Linked DNA regions of Homo sapiens. The protein of the gene in region 1 purifies or fractionates together with the protein of each later gene. This does not show direct contact. Each region holds a gene or a part of one and is shown on either strand. Other genes may lie near its edges.

What was found. The genes of interacting proteins can lie anywhere in the genome.
Region 2: the proteins of OPRK1 (region 1) and DOK4 purify together in Homo sapiens (affinity purification with western blotting, with the first as the bait; one study listed by BioGRID). This does not show direct contact.
Region 3: the proteins of OPRK1 (region 1) and GJA4 purify together in Homo sapiens (affinity purification with western blotting; one study listed by BioGRID and IntAct). This does not show direct contact.

What each region holds. Positions count from the first base shown.
Region 1 is NC_000008.11:53,231,138-53,234,637, reverse strand, and holds part of OPRK1 (kappa-type opioid receptor), read left to right. Parts: intron 1-3,500. UniProt on the Homo sapiens protein: G-protein coupled opioid receptor that functions as a receptor for endogenous alpha-neoendorphins and dynorphins, but has low affinity for beta-endorphins.
Region 2 is NC_000016.10:57,476,494-57,479,993, forward strand, and holds part of DOK4 (docking protein 4), read right to left. Parts: intron 3,265-3,500; exon of another isoform or gene 3,196-3,264; 5' UTR 3,015-3,195; coding exon 2,949-3,014; intron 1-2,948. UniProt on the Homo sapiens protein: DOK proteins are enzymatically inert adaptor or scaffolding proteins. They provide a docking platform for the assembly of multimolecular signaling complexes.
Region 3 is NC_000001.11:34,791,864-34,795,798, reverse strand, and holds GJA4 (gap junction alpha-4 protein), read right to left. Parts: upstream 2,801-3,935; 5' UTR 2,731-2,800; exon of another isoform or gene 2,453-2,730; intron 1,698-2,452; exon of another isoform or gene 1,603-1,697; 5' UTR 1,586-1,602; coding exon 584-1,585; 3' UTR 52-583; downstream 1-51. UniProt on the Homo sapiens protein: One gap junction consists of a cluster of closely packed pairs of transmembrane channels, the connexons, through which materials of low MW diffuse from one cell to a neighboring cell.

The DNA of each region.
Region 1 (3,500 bases):
AGTGCCTAAATCCATGGAAGATGAGAAGTAGAACAATTTTGTGTCCCTTTCCACCTCTAAACACAGAATGCAATAATGACATTGCCAGAAGAGAGATGCCCGACCTGTCTCCCATTCTGGCAATGTTTAGTAGAAAGTGGAGGGGTGAGGATGAGGTAAGAAACCACAGGCATGTGGAATTTTAAAGTACAACCTGGCAAGTCCAGGACACACCTTCTCACTCCTTTTTTTCTCTTTAACAAGGGATATAAATTATTGGTGACATATGCTGGTTCTTTCCTCTTTTATTCCTAAAGGATAACCTCCAAATCACTATTTTAACAGCTTTGGCTGTAGGCCATTCAAAATCAAGTTAACGGATGGTAGTTACAGATGAGCAGAACCACTTGATTTTGGACATATCAGGTTTTACCCCATGCAAACCAGCCAACTGATTTTTTTTTTTTTTTTTTTTTGAGAGAGAGTCTTGCTCTGTTGCCAGGCTAGAGTGCAGTGGCGCGATATCGGCTCACTGCAACCTCTGCCTCCCGGGTTCAACCTCAGCCTCTCGAGTAGCTGGGACTACTGGCACACACCACCATGCCCAGCTAATTTTTGTATTTTTAGTAGAGACAGGGTTTCACCGTGTTGGCCAGGGTGGTCTCAATCTCTTGACCTCGTGATCTGCCCGCCTCGGCCTCCCAAAGTGCTGGGATTACAGGCGTGAGCCACTGCGCCCGGCCCCCTGTTGATGTTTTTCCTGTATTTCTAGGACAGTAGTTCTCACTCTGGGCTGCACATTGGAATCACCTGGGTACTTTAGAAAACACTGCTGCCTGCATCCCACCCCTTAAGGGTCTGGTGTAATTGACCTGGGGTACAGCCTGGGTGTCAAGATTTTTGAGCTCTCTCCAGGTGACTCTGACCTGCAGCCAAGGTGAGAGGTACTGTTCTAGGAGTTTTGCTTTACTAGCAAAATATAAAGCTATAGAAAGCATCTTTGTTCCTCATAGAAATTAATGATGGGGAGGTGAGCAGAATAGTCACTCTGGGCCTACTCATGCTGTTTAATGCTCCAGCAGGTATATAAATGCTCCAGTTTACTAGGGGGTTCATAATACCTGTGAGAGCAGATAACTGAGTGTATATAGTGAGGATTTTCCAGGTCATAGTGAAAGGGCAAGGCACTAAAATCATAGCTTGTCTTGCATGATACATGGTTTGTTTGTTTTTAGACTTAATCTAGTTAGGTTTCAGTTTACAGTTTTAGGTTCACAGCAAAACTGACCAGAAAGCACAGAGAGGCACTTCCATTTACCTCCATTTACCCCACACAGGCACATCCTCCCCTACAGAGTGGTCCATTTATTACAGCTGCTGAACCCACACTGACACGTCGTTATCACTCAGAGCCTGGAGTTTACAGGAGGGCTCACTCTCCGGGTTATGTGTCCTGTGGATTTGAACAAATGTATAATGACTTTATTCATTGTTTTTTAATGAAGCTGATCTTTTCCCTCTGAAACTACAAAATGAATTTCTAGCATAGCCATAGCAGGTGTCAAGCTATACTACTAGGTAAATTTTAAGAAATGCCCAACTTTATCATATTTGCATTTCAAAATATGATTAATCACACATAGGATTTTGTTTCTTCATGCCTACAGCAAATAGAAATAAAGTGCAAGAAACTTTTCTGAGGCAAAGCTTTCACTTTGTGAACGTAAAATGTTGACTCTAATATTTTCCATACTGTAGTATATGTGTGTGTATTATGTGAGGATTCATAGTCTGCTCTTACTTTTTTATAGTAGCTAAGAATTATTATAATCGCTATAAGCAGAAACAATTATTCTTAACAAAATGAATACACACAAGAAAAGCTTTAGTTTAGCTATTAGAACTAACTCTATAATTATGACAACCATGAGATGCTGGAACAGGAGCCAGCAGAAGCCACAGCCCTCTGATATTAATATATAAAGAAACCAAAATCTGCTTGTTAAACTGAGGCAGTTGTATGGATACTTCAACCTGAAAATGCCCCCTTCTTCCTGAAACAGAACATTTAATAAAAATGGCATGCTTGGACAGGAATTTCTTTTTTAAAAAATGCTTAGTTTTTATGAATTCATAATAGATGTACATATTTAGGGGGTACCAGTGCTATTTTGATACAAGCATACAATGTGTAATGATCAAATTAGGGTAATTGGGATATTCATCACCTCAAGTATTTCTCATTTGTTTGTGTTAGGAACATTCCAATTTCACTCTTTTAGTTATTTTGAAATATATAATAAATTATTGTTAACTGTAGTCACCTTCTTGTGCTACTGAACATGATCCTTTTTCTTCTAAGCGTATTTCGTATGCATTAACCAACCCCTGTATATCCCCCTCCCCACAACCCTTCCCAGCCTCTGGTCACCTCTAGAGGTTCTACTCTCTATCTCTGTAAGTTCAGGTTTTTTTTTTTAACCTCCCAAATATGATGCTTGAGGACATGTGATATTTGTCTTTCTGTGCCTGGCTTGATCCCCTTAGCATAATGTGAAGTGCACTGGGATTCTTGATGATTGCCTCAGCACTCTCTTTACGCTACAAATTCAGCTTCATTGACATTTCTGGAGGATATTTCCAACTCTGTAGTGGGACGTTTGTTTCCCAAAGTCTTGTAAAGTAGCTGTTGTTAATTATTTCACCCAGTCATCTAATACTTACCATCTCCCACCACATGCAAGGCAGTTTGTTTGGGAGGAAGCTGAGCCTCGGAGTTAAAGGTCTATCCGAATTAAACAGCAGCCCTGTGCGGCTTCTGCTTAGCTTAGCTTAGCCGGTGACTTTTCCATAATAACTACTGTAATTAGGACACACTTTCGAGGGTTTGTTATTCATGTGGTATGTATTTGTTTGTTCATTTATTTAACAATTTATTCTGTTTATGCACCACATGTTCCAGGTACTACCCTAGGTGCCAGGGATTCAGTGTTGATTAAGGCAGGCTGGGTTTCTCCACTAAGGCAGTTCACATTCTGGATGGAGAGAAAAATGTTAGGAAGGTAACACACAATTACAGATCAGACAGGCTTCTGTCTGGGAAATTGGGTGAATATAACATGTAGACAAAGTGTAAGTTACCGAGGAGAGGACAATTTAAGAGACAGACCTCCATCTAAACGTCTCTGAAGTGACATATAAGCTGAGGTCAGCCACAGGAAACAACTAATGCTGAAAATAAAAGCTAAGCAGAAAAAAACAAACCAAACCATGGTCCCTACCTCCAAGGAAACTCTTCTACCAGATTCAACAAACAAGTCAAAACCCAGAATAGAATATTTATATTGAACTCAGATTTTTTTTTCATGTGTCACCCATCAAAAGTTGCTTAATGGATATCTTATATTCTATTATAATAGTAATGATTTAAAAATCATTTACCATAAACACTAAAGCAAAAGTTAATAGTCTTCATAGTAATATTACTTTGGACAATGACTTTTTTAAAAAATCAAAAATGA
Region 2 (3,500 bases), on another chromosome or scaffold:
CTCCTGGGGATAGGGATTAGACCCTTCCCCCTGCCCACCTGTACATCCCCGTGCCCCTAGTTCTCTGAGTCAGGTGAGGGTCTTTACAAAGGTAACCCCCACTCTTGTCTCCTGGGGCTTTCACTCACCCTCTCTTTTCATTCTCTTACCAACCCTGAAATGTAAGGGGCCCTGCTCCAGCTGGGAACCCAAAGCTGTTTGAGGTAAAGGGGTGGAGCTAGGAATCTGAGGCTCCTCCCACAGCATGGTGCCTTCCCTCCTGGCCCTGGCCACTGCTGATGCCCCTGTACCTTAAACTACCTACATTCTCTGTAGCTTCAGGGACTCCCCCAAGGGGGTGGGGAGCAGAGGGGAGTGACCACTCTAGGATTGAAGGGACAGACTGGCCTATCATTCATGGGTGGTGGAGAGGGAGTTGGCCCCAGCCACCAGCCAGAGCTGCCCTTGCATGACCCCTCCCTCCTGCCTAGACTTTTTTCTGCCCAAAGTCTGTGGCTGGGGTTTACCTACTCCTTCCAGCGGGCATTCCAAAAGCCCGACAGAGCCTGTTCCCCAGGCATCTCTGGTGTTCCTCTTACTGGAAACAGTAGGGAGACTGAGTGGTGGCCGAGAGCACAGCAGAGGAGGCCAGGGGGCCTCTAGGCCCCACCCCTCCTCGGCCCTACTGTGCCATGCGTACACTAGGTCCTTGGCAGGCAGGGTCCCAGGGTGCAGTGGCCCTAGGCAGCCCCCATTTCAAGATACCACTCAGAGCCAGGCCATTTCTGGCTCCTATCTGGGACCCTAGGAGGCATGTCTGCTCCTGCACCCCTGACCCTGGCTTGGCCCCTGTCCTACCCACCTAAACCACAGCAGCCCTCAGCTCTCAGCTGCAGCGCTCCCTTAAGACAGACACTGAATTTTATCCACAGAATCCTCACTCATATCCTGGTAGCCTCATTAACAGCCATGCTAAACAAGTGAATGACCATATGAAGGAACCGTGAATGAATGGATGGATGAATGGATGGATGCTGCCGACCCAGATACACCCTGCCAGGGTGGGCTCCATGCAGCCCGCAGCATCAGGGGCAGAAGGCCTGGGGGCCTGAGCATGCCGGTTGCCTGGTTACAGGATACACATTCACAGCCCCAGGGAGCCACGCGCTCAAGAGCCCTCCTTCCCACTTCGCACAGGGCTTTGATCAGTGCTTCAGAAACACTCTGCCACAGCTCTGCCGCGGGAGAAAGGCCCTGGCAGGTAGGAGAGCCGGCTCCTGATCTCTTTCAGCCCCTCCCCCCTCACCTCTGTGGGCTGAGATGAGAATGGCTGCTGGGGAGGGACCACAGCCTCTCACACCAGGGGAAGTGAGGCTCCTGGCTTCAGAGGGAAGAGAATTCCCTGCATGGATAGGGCCTGGCTATGCCCCACCTCCCCATCCAGGCTGTGCCCACCTGTCAGCCACTCAGTCTCCCTCTGGAACAGGTTTGATACTGAGCCCAAGTGGCTGCCCTTGTGGCTGGTGCCTTCCTGGCACACTCTGCCCTGGGCAAGGCCTCAGCCCAGCTGGCCCCTGGGGACCTGCTAAGTCTGGGGCCATAGGAATGAGAAGTGATGTTAGAAGCGAAGCCTCTGCTTCCTTGGCCTCCCTACCTCAGCCTCAGCTTCTCTCTTTGTTCTGTGCTCCAAGTCAGTGGGCTGATCCCCCTTTCAGAGGAAGAGCAAAGTAGCCGATGGCTGCCAGGGCCCAGTCTCAACTAGGTTGAGCCCCAGGGCAGGGAGGCACAGGAGGGGAAGTGGGGCCAGAACCACCTTCTCCAAGACCAGCCCTGCTCTGTCTGGTACCCAGGTAGGGAAGCTGGGTGGCAGATCCCTCTCCCACTCCGCATGCCCCCCAACCCCACTCAGGCTGAGCCAGGGATCCTTGAGCAGCCTGAGCCGACCCGCCCCCTTCAAGGCAATGGGAGAGAGAAGGGAGAAGGGGACAGGAGTCCTGGGTCAAACACAAGACTTGGGTGACCTCAGTCACCAGGGCTGTCCTTCCTACAGGGGAAGGGGCAACTGCCAGACCTGTCTTTGGCAGGGGGGCCTGGCAGAGGAATAGAGGCAGCTCTCAGACAGCCTCGCCGAGATCATGAAGTTGATCCCCTCTGCTCCTGTCTTCTAGGGGGTCTTCACCAGTTGGGGGTCTACAGAGGGTAGGACAGGATGCATGCCCAGTAAGACCTCTTCTCTGTAGCCCCTCCAAGCCCCCAGTTCAGGGCCAAGCACCAAGCAAGCACAGAGTCACCCACCAACAACTTGGAGGGAAGCAGCCTGTCCCAGAGCACTGGACCATTCTGCCCAAAGTTCTCATTTGGAAACCACATAAATATCAGCTTCAGTGCCTCACACCACCCCGTCTCGCCCAGCCAACCACTCCCCTTTTCAAACACTTCTTTAACATTAAACTCGACAACCAAAAATTTACTAAATATCTGCACACGGAAAGCAGTCAGAAGCAAGGGGAGAGGATGACCTAAAAGAAAAGAGGCCAGGAGAGGTGAGGGGAGGCCGGGGGTGGGGGGCAAACGGAAGGGAGAGGAGGCCAGGGGAAGTGAGACGCTGCTTCTCAGCTCAGACACAGCCCGGCCTTGCCAGCCGCCCCTGCTGCTGCTGTGGTGACAACTTCAACAATAGCAGGGGAGCCGCCTGCCCATCGGTGGCCACCATTGCTGCCACTACCACCACCACTGGCCCAGCTGTTGGGATGCCAGCCAGCCCTCTGGGGCGGGGGCTGCAGCAGGCAGAACCCAGCCCAGGCACATGCCAGGCAGCACGCTGGCGAGGAGCCCCGAGACCACAGATGCACGATGCCCGGCAGCCGGAGGGCAGCCGCGTGCCCCACGCGCCATGCCTCCAAGCCTGGGACCGAGTCCTCGGGCCCCCATCCCTTGGCAGGGCCCCTCCGCAGCTCAGGGTCACTCACCCCGAGCTTCCTGCTCTTCATCTTCACGTAGCCTTGCTTGACGATGTCACTGAAATTGGTCGCCATGGTTTTCCCACCTTTTAGGGGCGCGGGGCCTGGCAGAGGCGAGGGGAAGGATGCCCAGGTGCCTGGGTCTCCGGCTCCTCCAATCACCTGTTCCAGACACTCTGTCGGGGCTGCCGCGAGGGGCTGCTCCTCACCTCACCCGCCTCAGCATTGTTCTAGCAGCTCCTTCGCCCCGCGCCTGCTGGAAATAAAAATGACAGGGAGATTAGAGACAGTGACATCTTTCTCTTCCTCTCGCTGTCTCGCTCTCTTTTTTCCTTCCTCTTCCCACACTCCTCCTCTCTCCCTCTTCCCTCCCTCCTTCCTCCCGCCCTTCTTCCTTCCCTTCCCTCCCCACCCCAGGACGACAGAACCATTCAGGAAAACCGAGGTGGAGGCGGCAGTGAGGAAAATGGTCCAGCCCAGTCCCCTCCCTCACGGCTGGGGCTGGCAGTTAACCCCTTCCTGGGAGGACTGGCTCTGGCTCCTACTGTGGAGGTGGGGACC
Region 3 (3,935 bases), on another chromosome or scaffold:
ACTCTATCCCCCAACCCCCAGCACATCATGATAGCATCAATACACACCTACTTGTGATCAAGTCCTGTTTATTTCAGAAGCTTGAACAGTAGAACTAGGAAGGAGTGATGAAAACAAGGCACCAGTCCCCTTGACAGGGCCAAATCCGGCACAAGCTCTGTCTGTGCGATCAAGGCTGACCCAGCAGCCTCAATCCGCCTTTTCCTGTGAGGAGAGGGTTTGAGGACAACCTGCGCACAGGTGACTGTTCCATAGGGTGAGGTTGGGGTAAGTTGGCTCTGGGTTCCTCTGGATCAGCTGCAAAAGGCCAGAGGGCCCCCAGTACCCTTGGCCAAGAGCATTCCATGCTGACTCTGTCTGTGCTCAGGCAAAGCCACATTCTGGAGAGGAAGCCGTAGTGCCTGGTGGGCACCAGGAAGGCCTCAGGTGTTCAAGAACAACTTGCAATGAGGCTCCATGGCCAGCAAGCACCTGCTTCCCCAGCCCAGTCATCTCTGCAGAGCCTTCCAGGAGGGGGCAGGGGGCATCCCAGGCAGCCAGACTTCTCAGGACCCCTCTGTTGGGTGACATAAGCCACAGGCCTCTATACATACTGCTTCTTAGAAGCAGAGCTGCTGGGACGACTTGGGGGTTTTTGGCCATTCTGAGGGGGTGGGTCCAGGAAGAGAGGGGGCCTGGAAGACGCCAGCCTCTCCTCTGTGGTCAGGTTGGCCCAGTTCTGCTCACTGGATGAGAGCCCATTGTAGGTGGGGCATGGTGGGGATGAGGGCCCCTGGCCCACGGGGAGGTAGAAGAAGACCTGGTCCGTGTAAGGGTCTGAGGAGGTGCCCTGGGTCGGGGGTGCGTCTTGGCCTTGCCGTGCCCTCATCCCCCGGCTGAGGCAGCGACACAGCAGGTGCACCAACTCCAGCAGGTTAAGCACCAGGGAGATGAGTCCAACCACCAACATGAAGATGATGAAGATGGTCTTCTCCGTGGGGCGAGAGACAAAGCAGTCCACGAGGTAGGGGCAGGGTGCTCGCTGGCACACAAACACGGGCTCCATGGTCCAGCCGTACAGGCGCCACTGGCCATAGAGGAAGCCTGCCTCTAGCACACTCTTGCAGAGCACACTGGCGACATAGGTGCCCATCAGTGCTCCGCGGATGCGCAGGCGACCATCTTCTGCCACCGAGATCTTGGCCATCTGACGCTCTACGGCCGCCAGCGCCCGCTCCACCTGTGGGTCCTTGGCCGGCAGTGCCCGCAGCTCCCCCTCCTTCTGCCGCAGCCGCTCTTCTCGCCGAGACAGGTAAATGACATGGCCCAGGTAGACCAGGGTGGGTGTGCTGACGAAGAGGAACTGCAGCACCCAGTAGCGGATGTGGGAGATGGGGAAGGCCTGGTCATAGCAGACGTTGGTGCAGCCTGGCTGGGCCGTGTTACACTCGAAATCTGATTGCTCGTCACCCCACACTGACTCGCCGGCCAGGCCCAGGATGAGGATGCGGAAGATGAAGAGCACCGTCAGCCAGATCTTACCCACCACGGTCGAGTGCTCCTGGACCTGGTCCAGCAACTTCTCCAGGAAGCCCCAGTCACCCATGGCTCCCGGGCCTCCGTCTGCAAGGAGACAGAGCACGTCAGTGTGTCAGCATGGCATCCTTCTCGTTCGCCCAGCAACAAGCCTGCAGGGAGGTCTGCCACGCCCGTTCTACCTACAAAGAAACCCAGGCTCAGGAAGGGGAAGGACTGGCCTGGAGGCTCCCACTCAGCAGTGCAGGCAGGACCCAACCCAGATTTTTGGATGATGGCTGCCCACCTCTTTGTATGGTCTCATTCTGCTTTGGCTAAGGTCCCTGCCTAATCAGACATCTATGTCCCTCTTGTCCCCGAGCCACTGCCCCAGGATGGACACAGGCCAAGGAAATCTGGGTGGAGTTGAGGCTCCTTTGCCTATGGGAACAGAATTTGAGGAACTTATCCAAAGTTGTGCAGCTGGGCTAAGCCCTTCCTCCCTTTTGCCCAAGGCTGGCTACCCCCAGACAGTGGGAGCTAGTGATGATGGTAGAGGTGTTATCTTCTGCTTCTTAGGGGGCTCAAAGCCTCAGGTCCCTGCTCCCCGCCTCATATCTTACCCAGCTGGCTTCACTCTAATCTTTGAGCCTGCAGGGGCTGGGTAGTGGAAGGGGTTTTAGGAGCTGAAGGCAGCATCATCCTTTAGCTCCACCGGTCAGCAATAATGACCACCTGCCACTTGAGGAGGGACATTTGGTCCTGTCTTCTTCCTCCACCTCCACTCCCACCCCCTTCCACCTCCAAAGCTGATGCTGGCAAATTCTAGACTCTTGAAAGGAATTGTCATTGCAGGGTGAGGCACAGGCCACAAAGTTCCCAAGGGGGAGGTGCCTCTTCCCAAGTGCAAAGCTGTTTAGAGCCAGGCTCTGGAAGCGGCCCTGGGTTCAAATCTTGCCTTTTAGTAACTGCGGCCCCTTGGATAAGGAACAACCTCTGGGCCCCTCAGTCTCCTCCACGATAGAGTGGAAACAATAGTATTCCTCCCGCCTCGGGTTGTTACAAGGATTCCATGGAAAGAGGGTGGGAGCCTGGCCAAGGCCACCTGGGTGAGCGCGGCTCTGTCGCGGCGGGCGTTCCGCAGCAACCCCCGTCCCGGCATCGGAGGACCCAAGACTCCTCCCGGCCTCCCGCGAGCAGGTGGCGCCCCTGGTCCCTTCCTAGCCCCCGACTCACCGCCTGCCTGCCGGGCGGCCCAGGTGGAGGTGGGGACGATGGCCGGAGTGACGCCCGCGGGAGCCCTGCTGGACCGCACGAGCGGCGGGGGCGCCTTAAATAGCGCAGAGGGGCGGGGTGGGGGCAGGAAACGCGACGGGGAGGGCGGCGGGCGCTGGAGAGAGGGCGGGGGCGGGGACTGGGAGGTGCAGACTCCCTAAACCCACTCCGGGGAGGTGGGCCTGTGTGATTTGCGGTGGGGAGGGGCAAGAGGGGCTGACCTACCCTTCCTCTCCTCTGTTCTCTCTCCACCAGGTATTCCAGACAGTAAACTCTCCTGTCGTTTCTTTGGCCAGGGAAGGAGAGTTCTCCCAGGCCAGGATCTCTCAGGGTGGCTGGATTTGAAGGGGTTGCAGTAAGGGCTGTGGATCTGGGCAACTGGCCTGCGGGGCTGTGAGGGGTGGGCGGATGGGGATGGAGTGTGGGGACCACTCATTTGCTAGGTGGCTGGCCCTAGTGTGCCAGGATGAGGCGATCAAGGCTAATTACGGCGCGGGAAGCTCCAATGGGGGACAGGGGTTGTAATCCACACCTCCAGCATACATGGTGGAGCAGGCGTCTCTATCCACGCCCAGCCCACGTTCTTCCAGAATTCTCAAACATCCCCATGTCTGGGCAGGCTACACAATCAGAGGCCATTAAGCAATTCCCATGGACTCCTTGAGACTGGGGGTGGGGGAACCACCTGACCTTTAGCTTGGACCCCGTTCTTATGCCTCTAAATGGTGGCTGGGTGGTGTGGGGGACATCCATAGGAATGAAAGGGCTATGCGGAGCCTGCCTTCATGCATTCAGGCATCACAGGTGGATGAGCATCAGTGAGCATCTGCTGTGCTGCAGACGCTGCTTGGGGACCTGGGGATACCCTGAGGAACCAGCCAAACTTGGTCTCTGGCCTCCTCCCTCACTGGCTGGTGCAGGGATTGAGCATATCAGCCCTTGGATAACGGTAAGATAATAAATGTGGAAAGTTCTCCTGAGAGGTACTGGGTGATTCCCAGGGGACTTGGTTAGGAACATTTCCTGGAGGAGAGGAAATGCTTTTCCCCCTCCATTAGCCAAGTGGAAGGGAAGAGCATTCTAGGTAGAGGGGCGGCATGAGTGTGGCTCGAGGGCCTGGAGCTGTGGGGTTCTGAGACTGTGGCCACTGCCCTCGGAGTGCTGAG